Regions from separate parts of the Homo sapiens genome. Here region 1 is linked to region 2. Evidence: fine-mapped expression QTL. A gene starts in region 2. The other region holds a variant in brackets. All regions are shown on one strand. Distances are between the middles of the regions.

Region 1 (8,332 bases), 25 kb before region 2:
GGTCTTGAACTCCTGACCTCAGGTGATCCATTTGCCTTGGCCTCCCAAAGTGCCGGGATTACACGCATGAGCCACATCTGGCTTTTTTTCATTTATTGATAAATGAAATTTTGCATATTATGGGGTGCATATGAATGTGTTTTATATACACAGAATGTGTAATTATCAAGCCAGGGTATTTGAGGTATTCACCACCTTGAGAATTTATAATTTTATGTGTTGGGAACATTTCAAGTTCTCTCTTCTAGCAACTTTGAAATACACAATATATTGTTGCTAACTGTAGCCACCCTAGTCTGCTACCAAACATTAGAAGGTATTTCTTCCCTAAGTTTGTACCCATTCACCAACCTATCAAGAAGTTTTACTATTTTACAGGTGAGGAAACTCAGGTTCAGAGAGGCTAGGTCATTTGTCCAAGGTCATTGCTGTTACACAGCAGAGGCAGGATTTAAACCCTGGCTTGCTCAACTCCGGAGTTGGTGGGTTTTTTTTTCTTTAGAAATAGCGTCTCTGTCTGTAAGGCTGTGAGGGTGTAGTGCAGTGGCACAATCACAGTTCACTGCAGCCTAGAATTCCTTCGCTTAGGCGATGCTCCCGACCCAGCCTCCTGAGTAGCTGGGAGTACAGGTGCATGACACACCTGGCTAATTAAAAAAAAGTTTTTTAGAGATAGGGTCTCTGTATGTTGCCCAGGCTGATCTCAAACTCCTGTCCTCAAGTAATCCTCCTGCCTTTGCCTCCCAAAGTGCTGGGATCACAGGTATGAGCCACCACATCCAACCCAGAGTTTGTGCTCTTAACCAGGGATGACATGTTGCAACTTCACTCCTCACAGTGTGGCCCACAGACGAGCATCATCAGCATCACCCGGGAGCTTGTTAAACTGCAGCATCAGGCCACATCCAGGGCCTGAGTCAGAATCTGTATTTTGACAAGATCCCAAGTGATTCGTGTGCATACTAGTTTGAGAAGCTTTGGGGACCACAGTTTCACTAATGGTTTTTTTTTTTTAATTTCTTTTGAGACGGAGTTTCATTCTTGTTGCCCAGGGTAGAGTGCAATGGCGCAGTCTTGGCTCACTGCAACCTCCACCTCCCGGGTTGTAGAGATTCTCCTGCCTCAGCCTCCTAAGTAGCTGGGATTACAGGCGACCGCCACCACGCCCAGCTAATTTTTTTTTTTTTTTTTGTATTTTTAGTAGAGACGGGGTTTCACCATGTTGGCCAGGCTGGTCTCGAACTCCTGACCTTAGGTGATCCACCCACCTCGGCCTCCCAAAATGCTGGAATTACAGGTGTGAGCCACTGTGCCTGGCTTTGTTGGTTTTAACAGTTCTTTCCCATGCAGGCTGCAGCTGAACAGCCAAGTCCCCTCCTTGGGTCACATATTTTTCTGAAAATGTTATAAAAAAATTGAGTCCACTGGCCTGGGCTAATTACCTAGCAGAACATCCCCATGGTTTGGTGATTCTGAATATCGCTGCCAAACAAGCACTTGTAGAGGCTCAAACAAGGCCATAAAACATGGCAATGGGGGCGCGCTCCCACTCTGGGAAATGAAAATCTGACGATACTTTGAATTACAGTGGATCAAGATTAATTCCAGGCTCTACTTAGAGGAAGCTTTCAGGCCCAGTGGTTTAGACATAAAAGCAGTTTGCCCTAATGCGGCAGGTGAAAGCTGTGACAACTCTATTGCTTGGTGCCAATTACATTTATGGACTTGTACCCAGGAGTGCTAGGAAATTGTCACCATTAGTGCTGACGTACTGCCAGTTGTTGGCTCTGTCTAGTGGGGTTCTGATTTGAAGACTCATTATTAATATTCCCTGTAGTGATCTGCAATGCTGCTCCATTATGGCAAGTCTGTCAGGAACGGAGTTTGTGTAGGAATTTTAGAAAACAGCAATAGGTTGAGGGCTATGTGGTAGGCCCCAGAGCTTCTCAAACTACTGTGCACACAAATCACCCAGGGTCTCGTTGAGATGCAGATTCGGAATCACGTCCTGAGCTGAGGCTTGATACTTTTCTTCTTTTTTGGAGACAGGATCTCTCTCTGTTGCCCAGGCCAGAGTGCAATGGTGCAGTCATGGCTCACTGCAGCCTCAAATTCTTAGGCTCAAGCAATCCTCTCACCTTGCCTTCTGAGTAGTTGGGACTACAGGCGTTAGCCACTACGCCTGGCTTTTTTTTTTTTTTGAGATGGAGTTTTGCTCTTGTTGCCCAGGCTAGAGTGCAATGGCATGGTCTTGGCTCACTGCAACCTCTGCCTCCTGGGTTCAAGTGATTCTCCTGCCTCAGCCTCCCAAGTAGCTGGGATTACAGGCATGAGCCACCACACCCGGCTAATTTTGTATTTTTAGTAGAGGCAGGGTTTCACCATGTTGGCCAGGCTGGTCTTGAACTCCTGACTTTGGGTGATCCACCCGCCTCGGCCTCCCAAAGTGCTGGGATGACAGGCATGAGCCACCATGCCCGGCACCTCGCCTGGCTTTTTAATTTTTGAGATGTCTGGCTCTGTTGCCCAGGCTGGAGGGCAGTGTTGCGATCTTGGCTCACTGCAACCTTCGCCTCCCAGGTTCAAGCGATTCTCCTGCCTCGGCCTCCCAAGTAGCTGGGACTGCAGGCGCAAACCACCATGCCAGACTAATTGGCTGTTTAATTTTTAATAGAGATGGGGTCTTGCTTTGTTGTCCAGGCTGGTTGAACTCCTGGCCTTAATTGATCCTCCTGCCTTGGCCTCCCAAAGTATCGGGATTGCAGGAGTGAGCCAACATGCTCAGCCTGATGTTGCATTTCTAACCAGCATCCACGTGATGCCACAGATGCTGCTGCTGCTCCAGCGGGAATGTGGGAAAAGCACAGGCTCAGGAGTCAGATGGACATGGGTGGACATGGGCTCTAAACCTGACTCTGCCCTTGGTTGCTGTGTGATGTTGGGCAAGTTGCTGAACCTCTCTGAATTTTGGATTTCTCATGTGCAAAATAGGGATCACTTCTGCCTTTTAGGTTCTTTGAAGATTTATAATAACGTACATGCATAGGTTTTCTTCTTGCTCCCAGAGGGGCAGGGTGAGGTCACTCTCCTGCATGCTCTCACTACAGGTTCAGCTGAGACCGTTTTTCTTCTCTAAAGTACTTGGCTTTCTTCTTCCAAGTCAGGATTTCTCCGCCTCGGCGCTACTCACATTTTGGGCTGGATCATTTTGTGTTGTGGGGGATGCTCCGTGATTACCGCATTATAGAACGTTCAGCAGCATCTCTGGCCTCACCCACTGGATACTGGTGGCACCCGTCTCCCCTACTTGTGACCACCGAAAATGTCTCCAGGCACTGCCAAATGTTCCTGGAGGCAAAATCACTCACAAATAGGAAATAATGACCTAATTAGTAACTTACATTAGCAATTCATTCAACAATATGTGTTGAGCATCTACTGTTTGCCAGACCATACAGCAGGGATGTAGTGATATTTAAGACAAACAAGGTCCCTGACCTCATGGAGACTTTTTCCTTTTTGGACCTCAGTCTTCTCCGCTGTAATGTGGGTATCACAAGGCTGCGGACCTCCTAAATTTGTTGGGAAGATGAAGTTAGACTTGCAAGTGCCTGGCCCCTGGCATGAGGGATTAGCCAATGCCAGGGGTATGATGGGCCTAGGGATGGAACCTGGGAGCTTGGGGAGAAGCGAGTGTGGGCAGGGACAGTGCATGGAGAAGCCAGGAAACCTGAGCTGCAAGGGAGGCGGAAAGGGGCCATGAAAGGCCCTGGTGCAAAGTGTGCGGCAGCAGCAAGGCAGGGGAAAGGGGCTGCAGGGAGGGCCAAGGGTAGCAGGAAGATGGGACCAAAACTGGAGAGAAGGAGAGAGACAGTGGGACATAGAGGATGACAGGAAGGGGTGGAGATGGGAGGAGAGAGGCACAGATGGAGAAGATAAAAAACCAGACAGACAGACATGTACACACGTGATAAGACAGAGAGACCAAGGGGCGGAGGGAAAATGAGTCCAGGCGGAAGGGAACACCTCTGAGGAAGATCACTGCACAAACCCTGGTCAGCTGCACATGACCCCAAAGAGTGGCTCTTAGGTTTATTCCAAACGTACCTGATTTGGGTGATAAAGAGTTAAAATTAAATACAAAGGCCAATGCCAGTCCATTCCTGGCGCCAGCTCCTGCCTCTTCCTTCTCATGGGGCCCTCACCAGAGTGATGGGGTGGAGCATACCCAACCCTGGGAGGAAATGAGGCTTTTGTGCCGAGCGGCAATATGATGGCAATACTGGCAGTGGTAGTCAACCCATCTGTAAACAGCTGACAGAGGGCAGTACAAGAATCCACCTCACAGCCAGGGCCGCAACCGCAAGTAAAGCACACAGCTGAAATGACTGACGTGGGTGGAACTGAGCTGAGAAGGAACGTGGCTCGGCTTGACCCTGGAGCACACATCACAACCATGAGAAACAGGCAACTAAAGTGACCTCCAGCCCACAGCAACAACCTTCTCTGGCTACAACTGGGAGGCAGGGACAGACCCCAGAAAACCATCTTGGGTCATCTAAGGTACGTGTAACCATATTTTTAAAATGACAAAATCTCAAGCATGTTGCTTTGGTGAGCTTCTGATTTTACTAGAAATACACTCTAAGAACAGTCGAGACGCCGCGCCTTGTGGAGGCGATGGGTCATGTTACTGGTTCTGCGATGA[T/C]CTTCCAGAGCTCCTGCAGCAAACAGAGAAAAGAACAGGTTTCTGAAGTGCACATACAAGAGCATCACAATTTCATTAAGGAAAGTGATTCACCAAGGAGAGTAGTTAGACAACACGTCAGCCACGGAGCAGGCGAGCTGGGGCAGGAGCGGACGGGCGGCTTCCTCCTTTCTTTGTTGCTCTGGGCTGTTCTATTTTACTGTGGCAGAGAGGCTGGATGGATGAAGTCCCAGCATTAACGGAAGGTGCATCAGAGGATGTCAAACAATCAGAAGAGACCAGAATAGCAGTGAGTTGCCGTATCTCTCCATTTTGGGGGAGATCTTTATAAACAATTTTATTTTAGAGACAGGATCTCATTCTGTTGCCCAGTCTGGAGTGCAGTGGCACCATCACAGCTTGCTGCAGCCTTGAACTTCTGGGCTCAAGCAATCCTCCCACCTCAGCTTCCAGAGTAGCTGGGACCACAGGTGTGCACCACCATGCATGGCTAATTTTTTTTCTTGATTTTTGTCGAGATAGGGTCTGTGATGCCCAGGCTGGTCTCGAACTCCTAGCTTCAAGCAACCCTCCGACCATGGCCTCCCAGAGTGCTGGGATTACAGGTGGGAGCCACCGTACCTGGCCTTTTTGGGACGTCTTAGGCATCATGTATTGGGGCTGCTGACTTGTAAGAAATGTGTGTTCTTGGTCATGTGACGCTACTCTTAATGCTGCCCAGAAGTGGCAGAGCAATAAATACAAGATCCTCCTCGCACACAAAACCACACGAATTCCATGCTGCCCTCCCTCAGGACGCGAGACAGAGTGCAAGGGCGGCAGCTCCTCGTGACTCCCTCTTCCTCCCTTTTTCCTTAGAACTAGGCCCGGGTCTCCACAGACATAGAGAAAGGGAGGCCACAGCCAAAAGGCAAACAGAACAAAAGAAGTTAATTCTCAATCTTTGGACTCCAGTTAATAGAAAAGCCAGTTCAGTCCGAGAGGGGCTGGTATCCTTCCACAGTGAAGATGTGAGCAGCGGCCACCACAGCGGGGCGCCTGCACCAAGATCTGCAACCCACAAACTTCCCTCCACTGACTTCCTGTTCCCCAAACAACCTCTGCCTCGGTCTTGCCTCCTCTGGAGTCTGAACTGTCCAACGGGGGGAATATGTGCTATAAAGTAAAAGACAAGGTTCGCCTGTAGGCCCGTCTCCAGACATGGTGGCTGCTAAGAACAGGATGTAGCTCCCCCAACAGGTTCCACTACAGATGGTGCCAGGCACGCAGGCTTCACCCCCTGCAGGACTAGGGTGGAGCCTGTGCTTGGAGGGCTTGCTTCATCACCTCTTTGCCCTGGAGTCACCCGCTTCACAGTAAAGCAACCAACGGCCCTGCTTCGGGGCCTGGACCTACCAGTTGCTGGAGGCGCTCGTAAACCAGGAGCTGTGGGAAGGAGGCCTCCACGGGCTCCACCACGAAGCGCAGCTTGCCATCTGCGAGCTGCTCCAGCGCGTGCAGGCAGGAGCGGAAGTGATCGTAGGCTTCACATGTGACGTCCAAGTGTCTCAATGTGAAGTTGAGCCTGCAAACCAGCCAGTCGGACGCACAAACTGCCATCATCAATGGGAAGGGTTTTGCTGTTTCTGCCCACCTTGCTTTCCTATCCCTCACTGATCTCATATCCCCTGGACGGGCTTTTACTGAGCGCCTGTCTCATGCTGAGTGTGTGAGTGCAATTCCTTCCTACATCTGCACGACAGCCCAGGAGGTGGAAGTGGATAGCACTTTACAGATGTGGAAACAGGCTCAGAAAGCTCAGGTCACGTGCCCACAATGACACTGCTGGAAAGATCAAGACAGTCCTGCAGATCAACACTTGAGGACGCCCTCCAGGTCCTGCCTGCACCCAGCACAGAATCTGGTGCCTGGAGCTGCGCATAACTATCTGAGAAATGAATGAATGAGAGGCAGTGGCAGGGGGCGGTGCAGAGGACTCCGGGAGCACAGAGAACAGAGAGAAAACTGCTGGGAAGCTGGGGTCTGAGAGATTTCAGAGAGTGAGCACCTTCAGAAACAGGTCTCCCAACCCTGCCACTTGCCTTTCAAAACCTTAGTCTACAAGATGGTTTCACTTGAAATTAAAGCTCTTTGCCTTTTTCCCTTTTCTTTCCAAATTTTTTTATCAAGAAAAATTCCAGACATGCAACAGGAGTAAGAACAGTCTATGCTGGGCGTGGTGGCTCCCACCTGTAATCTCAGTACTGTGGGAGGCCGAGGAGGGCAGATCACCTGAGGTCAGGAGTTTGAGACCAGCCTGGACGACATGGTGAAACCCCGTTTCTACTAAAAATACAAAAATTAGCCAGGTGTGGTGACGCATGCCTGTAATCCCAGCTACTTGGGAGGCTGAGACAGGAGAATGGTGTGAACCCGGGAGGTGGCGCTTGTGCTGAGCCGAGATCGCACCATCACACTCCAGCCTGGGCTGACAGGGCAAGACTCTGCCTCAAAAAAACAAAAAAAACAAAACTGTCTAATGAACCCATTACCAGCTTCAGCCACTGTCCACTTCCAGCCACTCTGCCACCTTGGCTCTTCCCGGGGCCCCCTGCCCTCACTGAGTTATTAAAAAGCAAATGCCAGACACCAACCCATTTCCTCTGTGAAGCTGGAAATGTCAGTGTGTGTCTCAAGAAGATGAAGACCTCTTCAACTAAAGTTTAACAATCACCCTTTAACATCAAATATTCAGTATTCAACTTTTCCCAACTGTCCTGATGTTTTTCCTTTACAGTTTATGAAATCAGGATCCAAATGAGGTCTGTACATTGCTATTGCTCAGTGTGTGCCTCAAAGCAAGCCCTCGGTATTATTGGTATAAGTAACACTGCAATAAATATGCAAGTACATACAGCTTTGTACACAACCCTGAGTGTGAATTTCCAGATGCTGAATTGCTGGGTGAAGAAGTCTGTTTCGTTTTACAGCTTTTGCTGTGGATTCCGAACGATCTTCAGAAAAGCTGTGGACTACTGTTAAGTATTACAGGAGAATGTGTGTAGCTATCACAAGGTGGGCACTCAATAAATGGAACCTAACATTTCAGGATATTCTAGTGGAAATGTCTGGGTGAGGCTGTTGGGTGAGGAGCTGTCCGATTCAGCAAGAGAAAGAGACCTGGGGGAGCTGAAGAGACAGACGGCACCACAGAGAGAACATTCAGGAAGAGAAGCTCTCAACAGTGTGTGCTGGCCAAGCGTTGAGGTTCCAGTACAGTCTGCATTCAAGTCCTTGTCTATCACTAACTAGCCGTGCCCTGGCCAAGGCCCCTGATGCTTCCCAGCCTTCCTCTCTTCATCAGTCAAGTGGGACAGCAGCGCCTGCACACAGGGCTAGGATGCAGATTCAGTGCAGTAACGTACACAAAGGATGAGCACAGACCTGGCACATAGTAGGTGCTCAATAAGTGGCACTGAGTAACAATCATAATGACACTGACAAGGACACAATTAGGAGGTGAGAGTTCCGCTGACACTCGGGACGTCAGCACGGTTCCCGTGGCGCAAAGCTCACCTCTTCTCCACCGACAGTATGGCTGTGCAGGCATTTTTCAATCTGTGGGCGAGTCGGGAGAGCGTTTTA
Region 2 (8,332 bases):
ACAAAAAAATTTCAAACAGTAAGGATACAGGGGAATATCATAACCGTAGAACTACTGCTTAGATTCAATGATCCTCACCATTTTGCCACACGTGCCTGCCCTCTCTGGTTTCTTCTCCTTGAGCTGAGAGTACATTGTAGACATCATGACATTTTGCCCCTAAATTATTTAATGTCTGTCCCCTAAGAGCATTTCCCTATATAATCATAAGACCATTAGCAAATCTAAGTTAATTAATAATTCCCTAATAGCATTAAAGTCAATTTCCTCCATCTGTCTCCCAAAGGTCTTTGAGGTTTTTTTTCCCCCAGAAACCAGTATCCAATCACAATCTGCACTTTGCATTTAGTTGTTATGGCCCTTTACTCTTTCTTTTTTATTCTAGAAGCTGTTATCAACTGTCCCCACATCATTTGTTGTTATAAAGCTTTCCTATTTTAAACAATGTTTTATTTTTAAACATTTCTTTTTACAGACAGGGGCTTGCTCTGTTGCCCAGGCTGGAGTGCAGTGGTACAATCATGGCTCACTGCAGCCTCAAACTTCACGCGATCCTCCTGCCTCAACCTCCTTCATAGTTAGGACTACAGCTATGCCACCATACTTGGCATTAAATTTTTTTTTTTTGTAGAGACAAGGGTCTCACTATGTTTCCCAGGCTGGTCTCAAATTCTTGGGCTCAAGCCATCCTCCCATATCAGCTTCCTAAAGTGCTGGGATTACAGGCGTGAGCCATCATGCCTGGCTTAAAGCTCTGCTACTGAATTTAAAAAGATGAGTGGAATTAGGCGGGTGTCGTGGCGCGCGCTGGTAGTCCCAGCTACTTGGGAGGCTGAGGTGGGAGGATCGCTTGACACCAAAAGGCAGGGGTTGCAGTGAGCTGAGAATGCGTCACTGCACTCTGCACTCCAGGCTGGGTGGCAGAGCAAGACCCTGTCTCAAAAAGAAATTAAAAAAAAAAAAAAAAGAGTGAGTGGATTTAAAGGAAAAGTAGTAAGGGAGTCACTACACTGGTGATACACAGATATGGCAAAATTATGCAGGTGACACATTAATAACTAAAACTTGGAAAACCATGGCTGAGGCAAAGTGGTCAAGAACAGGTGGGACCTCCCTCCAACCGTTTCACCTAATCAAAAAGCATCATCAAACAGCAGTAGTCTGATGGGCTTTGAAGCTGGACAGACCAGGTGGGGATCCCTGGTTTCTCACCTTCTAGCCATGTGATTTCAGGAAAATCACTTCGCCTCTCTGCATCTGTTTCTTCAGCCACAATCTCACGCAGTGTTACTGGGTGGGTAAACTGCTGAGCAGAGTCCTTGGCTCACAGTAGGTGTTAATAAAACACCAGCAACCTCCTTGTCCTGGGGTTGGTTTCAGGTATTTGACCCAAACCTGCCTGTAACCCCTGACTGCCTATAGGAGCTGTTCCTACCTGGGTAGATGTCATGAAATCTTCAGGGCCCCCACTTCTTCAACTGCAAAATGAGGTCATCATGACTCAGGCTGTCCTAATGATCCCAGTACACTGCTGGAGTTCCTACATTTAAGTGGTTGCTGTGGGGCAGCAAAAGCTGTCCCAACAAAAAAATTTTTAAGAAAAAGATGATTCCTTATTCATCTCCATGCTAGCTTTCCTACTCAACACCATAAAGCCATCAAAATGCAAGTGGGTTGTAAAGAAAGTCTGTGAATCTGGCAAATCAATGCAGAATTTCATGGTGTCATTGAAAGTGATGGAGAAATGCTGGACCTGAAGGCCAACACTCAATCAATCGGACTGGCAAAACCACACCAGATTCCAGAAGAGAAAATACAGCTTATACCTACCACTCATTTCAAAGGCAGATCAAGCTCTCTCAGGACTTAGAGATGTCCTGGGGGAAAACTGAGGACTTTCACATACAGTTTTTTTTGAAGGGGGTGGGGAAGATCCTCTCTAATATTGCTGTAAAAATCAAAAGTGAACCAAAGGATGCCATTTCTTTTTTTGCCATAGCGCATTTTTTTTTTTTTTTCTGAGACAGAGTCTCACTCTGTTGCCCAGGCTAGAGTGCAGTGGTGCCATCTCGGCTCACTACAACCTCCGCCTCCTGGGCTCAAGTGATCCTACCTCAGAGTCCCGAGTAACTGGGACTACAGGCATGCACCACAATGTCCACCTAATTTTTGTATTTTTAGTAAAGATGGGGTTTTGCCATGTTGGCCAGGCTAGTCTTGAACTCCTGACCAAGGTAGATCCATCTACCTTGGCCTCCCAAAGTGCTGGGATTATAGGTGTGAGCCACCAGGCATGGCCTATAGCGCAATTTTGTTGGAAAACTTACATCCCAGAAAAATCAATGTTCTTTGCTTTTTCCAAAAGTGAGCATAATATTACACACCAAATTTTAAGTATAGACACACACAAAAAAACTCAAATTCTTAATCTCTAGTTGAATTTTCCATTTTTAAATTCAACCCAACCAGGCTTCCCAAGAAATGTACGCTGCAATGTAAGTTCCAGATGAAGGAGATTCCCTTTAAGTGGCTTTCCCTAGAATCAGCTATCTGGGAATAAGGAGGCCCTCTTGAACCTATCTCAGGCCCTCATATACTCAGAGGAGTATATGAGACAATTACCACTTTTCGGGCTTACGACATATAGTAAACGTTCAATAAGCAACAATAGTAAATACTATCATTATAGTAATATAATAATGATTAAAGTGAATGCTGGGAAGAAAGAAAAAAGGTAACAGTTTCTCTAGTCAGGAAAAGTCTCTTTCCGGAAATGCAGGGTCTGTATGGGCTTCGGGCTCCTCTCTTTACTGGGCAGAGCTGAGAAAGGAGACCCAGGTTGCAGATGGGGACCTGCCCCACCACCTCTCCATAGGGCTGCAGGCTCATCCCTGCAGCAGGAGCTAACGTGTTCTTGGCTCTTCTAAGGCTGTGGGGGCTAGACTGAGACGCTACCAGCTTTCTTCTCCTATAGGTCCCCAGTCAGTTGTCCCAAATAAGCAGTGTGCTGGGATCACGGTGTTGAAATAACTTCCCTCCTCATCTTTCTTTCTGATAACTGCAACTCACTCAACAATCAATAATTTGGCGCGATCCCATGACGATTTAGGCCAGGAGCTGGGGAGGGCAGGGTGTGAAGGCCCAGGCTGGGGGCAGGAAAGACGTGGCCTGGCCACGGTGCGTAGAGTGGTAGTGAGGGGCTCCGGGGACGTCCCCCGTGGGGCTACTCGTTCTCTTTGTCTTGTCGCCTTCCTGACGCCACCCTTGTGGGTTAACTATTGCCCTCTCAAAAAACAGTCACAGGTCGGGCACTGCCCTCCCTTCCTAATCTAGAACCGAAGGAGAGGTGCCTGGACCCAGGATGGAAACCCAGGTGAGGACGTGGACTTCTTTCCCCAACACCCGTGTTGAGAAGGGGAAACTGACGCTAAGAGTGGGGTCGGGCCTTAGGGATCTGGGCCTCCGATCTGTGGGAGCTCGGATTTCAAAGTCAGGCTCGGCGCCAGGAGGTTCCCTGCACCCTACCCTATCCCGCCGCCTCTCCCAGGCACTTACCCGCCGCGGGGCCCAGCCTGGGATCCCACCCGACTCCCGTCTCTGTGGGACTTAGGCGGCCGCCATAACAGGCGGTCTGCGCAGGCGCGGCCCCGCCCCCGCGTGCGACCATCCGACTGCCCCGCACCGTGGCTCCACCTACCTGCCCGGGCCGCGCATGCGTCCGAGGGTTGCCGGCGGGCACCTGTAGCCTTCGCTCTGGTCGCGGGCGAGGCGTGTTTGCTGGGGGGACCCGCCTAGGTGGCTAAACTCATTCCTCTAAAAGACTTAAATAGGAGTTAAATAACTCTCCCAGCTACTAAGTGGTAAAGCCTGGATTCGAACCCGGGGTGTGGGATCAGAGCCGGTGCTATTTAACCAGCATGCTACTGTATTTATTATCACGGGTGTTACCGTCATCCATGCTCTTAGTACTCGTTTGTTTGTTTGTTTGTTTATTTGAGATGGTCTTGCTCTGTCACCCAGGCTGGAGTGCAGCGGCGCAATTTTAGCTCACTGCAGCCTTGAACTCCTGGGCTTAAGGAATCCTGTTTCAGCCTCTCTAGTAGCTGGGACTACAGTTGCGTGGCACCATTTTTTTTTTTTTTTGTACAGACTGTATCTTGTTGTGTTGCCCAGGCTGGTCTCAAACTCCTGGCTTCAAGCAGTCCTCCTGCTTCGGCCTCCTAAAGCTCATAAATTACAGGCATGAGCCACCACGCCCAGCCAGTACTTGTTATTATTAATAGGTGGTAGTGATTTCATTAGGTGGTAGTGATTTCGTTAATTCGTATGCTCATCAAGTTTCCAACACCAAGGGGGTGAGACAGAGTGGCAAACATAAGACTCCATGTTTGCTCGTTTTTTCTTGCCTGCAGAATTTCAGAAAGCCTCTGAGTCCGTGACTGAGCACAGCCCTCAGAAGAATCCCCTGAAGAGGATGAGCAGGATAGACCACAGATTCTCACGTCTCTTGCCTGAGTCACTGCATTTTTAGAAAAAGTACAGTCAATAATATTGGCCCTTTTCTCAATCTATATATTCAGTGACATCATGGAAGTCAGCCTGGCCACAATGGAGTAAGCCAGGGGATGGGCCGCAGGAAACGAGGATACATAGGTAGCCAGGGTTAGAACTTTTGTGACATTCTAAGAACTTTGGATTTTACTGTGCGTGAGATGGGGAGCTGCCAGGGATATACACCACACTGACGTGTTCACAGACATGCCCAGACACACACAGTGGTGCTCACTCTCAGACATGTCAGTGAACATACAAATATACACACAGGAACATATGTAAAGTCCACATATGTAAAATCTATATCCCTGTGTGTTCACATATACACACACGCACACACATGGCCTCAGCTGGCAACCTTTGTCTAAATTACTTTTTTTTCTCTTTTCAAAATAGAATTAAATCAACATCAATTTCATGGTTACTGATGATAAAACGTGGAGAGTTGATAGGGTGACTAAGCGACACAAATAAGAATTTTTTTTTTTTTTTTTTTTAAGAAACAGATTATGTTTCCTGAAATCCCCCAGGACAGTACACAGAGAGCCAGTTGGGTGTCTTGGGACCAGATTCTATTCATAGTTTTCTCTCTAGTTCGCTGAGGGTTCTCTTAGTTATCCCCAGAGGATGTTGAGTGGTGGGGAGGGCACTAGGAAGGCATTGTTCACACCCTTGGGAGTTTTGTCTTCAAATTTAAACCGGGGGAATGACCCTTAAAAATCAAAAGATCACATTCCTCCTCTTGTCAAACCTATAATCTTTTATAGGGGATTAGTGCCCCTACAAAAGAGGCCCCAAAGAGCTGCCTCACTTCTTCTGTCATGTGAGGACACGGCAAAAAGACAGCCATCTATGACCAAGAATTGGACACAGAATCTGCCAGTGCCTTGATTTTGGACTTTCCAGCCCCTAGAACCATGAGAAATGAATGTGTTTATCAGCCACCCCATGTATGGTATTCTGTTATAGCAGCCCAGATGGCCCCAAAAGGGTTATCATTTCTGCCACAAATTTTGAGGTGGTTTGCAACACAGTAATAGGTCACCAGGTAAGGGGAAAGAAAGCCAGCCCTTCTTGGCAGGGCTGCAAAGAGATGGTAGCTGGGGGAGTGCGGGAGGGGGCCCTCAGTTCCGGAGCCTCAGTTATAAACAAGGCACACTGCTGGCCCCTTCATCTTGTGGTTTTGTTTCATTCTCACACCCATTCCGAAGCTCAGAGAGGTGAAGTGCCTTGCTCAGTGTTACCTAGCCAGTGAGACGCAGACTCACGTTTTCTTTTCTTTTCTTTTTTCTTTTTGACAGAGTCTCCATTTGTCGACCAGGCTGGAGTGCAGTGACGCCATCTCAGCTCACTGCAACCTCTGCCTCCCTGGATCAAGCAATTCTCCTGCCTCAGTCTCCTGAGTAGCTGGGATTACAGGCGTGTGCCACCACATCCAGCTAATTTTTGTATTTTTAGTAGAGACGGGGTTTCACCATGTTGGCCAGGCTGGTCTCAAACTCCTGACCTCACGTGATCTGCCCGCCTTGGCCTCCCAAAGTGCTGGGATTACAGGCATGAGCCACCACACTTGGCCTCAGACTCACATTTTCAAAATGTCCCAGTGAGTCTGCTGGGTGGAGCCTTAGGGTTAAATGCCCTCCCTAGTGTCCCAGGCAGGTCTTTTGCTTTGAGAGTCTCCCCCAGACTTGGCGAAGCAAGGGTTAAGGTGCATGCTCACACACGCTGGAGTGTCCATCACTCCCACCACCTGGACTAATGACAAACCATGTCTGCAGCAGAGGGAAGGCGGATGAACTGCCAGATGTGTATTAAGAAACCAGCTTGCAGGAAATTGCTGTCGGGTGATTATTATTAGCTGGGTTATTCAGAACAGCCCTTTCTCCAAAGGTCGTGCATTTACCAAATGCTTGATGTGTTTTCCCAGTCAGCCCCAGAAAATTTTGTCCTCCTGGAGAGAGAGCTTGTCCTCCAGGACTGCTGAAAGTGGGTGATGATAATTCTGCCCCCGCCTCCCATCAGCATATCACGGCAGCTGCTTTGAATGCACAGCAGTCTGCGCTCTGGTTCCTGGTTCTGTGTGCAGAGGCAGGAGGTTGACCTTCAAGAGCACAGAGCTGAGTTCAAATCCCCAGCTCGGCCACTGATTAATTATATTCATCCATTCACTACCTAATTTTGAAGAGCTTTTCATATCCTTGGTACTTGGGCAATTGCTTTACTTCTATGAAACTTAATTTCCTAGTGGCTCAAATACTGATAATACCTTTCTTGGCGTGTTGTGAGAATGAGTGGCATATCACCCGTGGAGAGTTCCAGACAATAACTCCCTTCCATTTCTTGAGATAATCTGACAGTGTCTGTTATATTTTAAAGAACCCACCAGTTTTACTCACTTCACCACGTCACATTGGTAGATGAAAAACAAAAAACAAAATAAGTTACAGTGCCATTCATACTGTATAAGATCAATTATGTAAAATAAAAAAACCCTCACAATTATATGTTTTCTCAAGCTAGGCAGAATGTGGTGTATGCATCAAGGGATTATTATTCAGCTGTAAAAAGGAATAAAGCAAAATAAACAAAAAAGCTTTAAAAAATCAGCTGGGGATGTTCGTGCATGACTATGTTCCCAGTTACTTGGGAAGCAGAGGAGGGAGGATTACTTGAGCCCAGGAGGTTGAGGCCACAGTGAGTGGTGTTTGCGTCACTGTACTCCAGCCTGGGCAACAGAGAGAGACCCTGTATTAAAAAAAAAGAAAAGAAATAGGGTCATTGTAGATGCAAGTAGTTAAGGATCTTGAAATCATCCTGGATTTAGGGCAGGCCCTAAGTCCAATGACAGCTGTCCTTATCACAAGAGGAGAGGACTCAGAAAGAAGACAATGTGGAGTCAGGCGGAGAATGGGGTGAGGCATGTAAGAGCCAAGGATCGCCCAGGATTGCCGGCAGCCTCCATGCGTCAGGACAGACACGCGGAACGGATTCTCCCTCAGAGCCTCCAGAAGGACCCAGCCATGCTGCTACTTTGATTTTGGACTCGTGGCCTCCAGAACTGTGCGGGAATGCAGGTCTGTTGGTTAAAGTCACCCAGTTTTATTTAGTTAAGAGACTAATACAAGGTTTTAGCTAATTTGTGCCTACTGGTCTTTTTATTTGCATTCCCCTTGGCTCAGAAAGCCCACTCTCAGCCCAGTTTCCATCGTCACAACTGGTTCCTTCTCGTCCAACATAGCTTAAATTATTTTTATTTTTTATTTTATTTTATTTTTATTTTTTGAGACAGAGTCTCACTGTCACCCAGGCTGGAGTGCAGTGACGCGATCTTTACTCACTGCAAACTCTGCCTCCTGGATTCAAGCAATTCTCCTGCCTCAGCCTCCCGAGTAGCTGGGATTACAGGCGCCAGCAACCACGCCTGGCTAATTTTTGTATTTTTAGTAGAAACGGGGTTTTGCCATGTTGGCCACGGTGGTCTCCGACTCCTGACCTCAGGTGATCCACCTACCTTGGCCTCCCAGAGTGCTGGGATTACAGGCATGAGCCACTGTGCCCGACCCATAGCTTAAATATTATCTGCTCAGTTGGCCCTTCCCTGCCCATCCCATCATGTGTTGACCCCTACTATCTGCCCAAGTAGCTCTCCTTTACACACCCTTTAATCTTCTTTCTTATTTCATTTTTTAAAAGTAGAAATGGGGTCTCGCTGTGTTATCCAAGCTGGTCTTGAACTCCTGGGCTCAATCAATCCTCCCACCTTGGCCTCCCAAATTTC

What was found. PIP is the estimated chance that this variant, and not a neighbour inherited with it, causes the effect.
Region 1: its variant is fine-mapped to the expression of METTL22 in whole blood (INTERVAL, PIP above 0.99).

Annotation. Positions count from the first base shown.
Region 1 is chr16:8,642,497-8,650,828 of GRCh38, reverse strand. METTL22 (methyltransferase 22, Kin17 lysine) reads right to left here. Exons shown (of 11, transcript NM_024109.4): 9 at 8,264-8,332; 10 at 6,104-6,272; 11 at 1,175-4,721. The coding sequence ends at 4,686. Among named protein-coding and RNA genes, the nearest start is that of METTL22, 25 kb to the right of the region's middle. The variant T/C (reference allele first, on the strand shown) is at 4,709.
Region 2 is chr16:8,616,999-8,625,330 of GRCh38, reverse strand. It overlaps METTL22 (methyltransferase 22, Kin17 lysine), which reads right to left and starts at 3,633. Exons shown (of 11, transcript NM_024109.4): 1 at 3,556-3,633.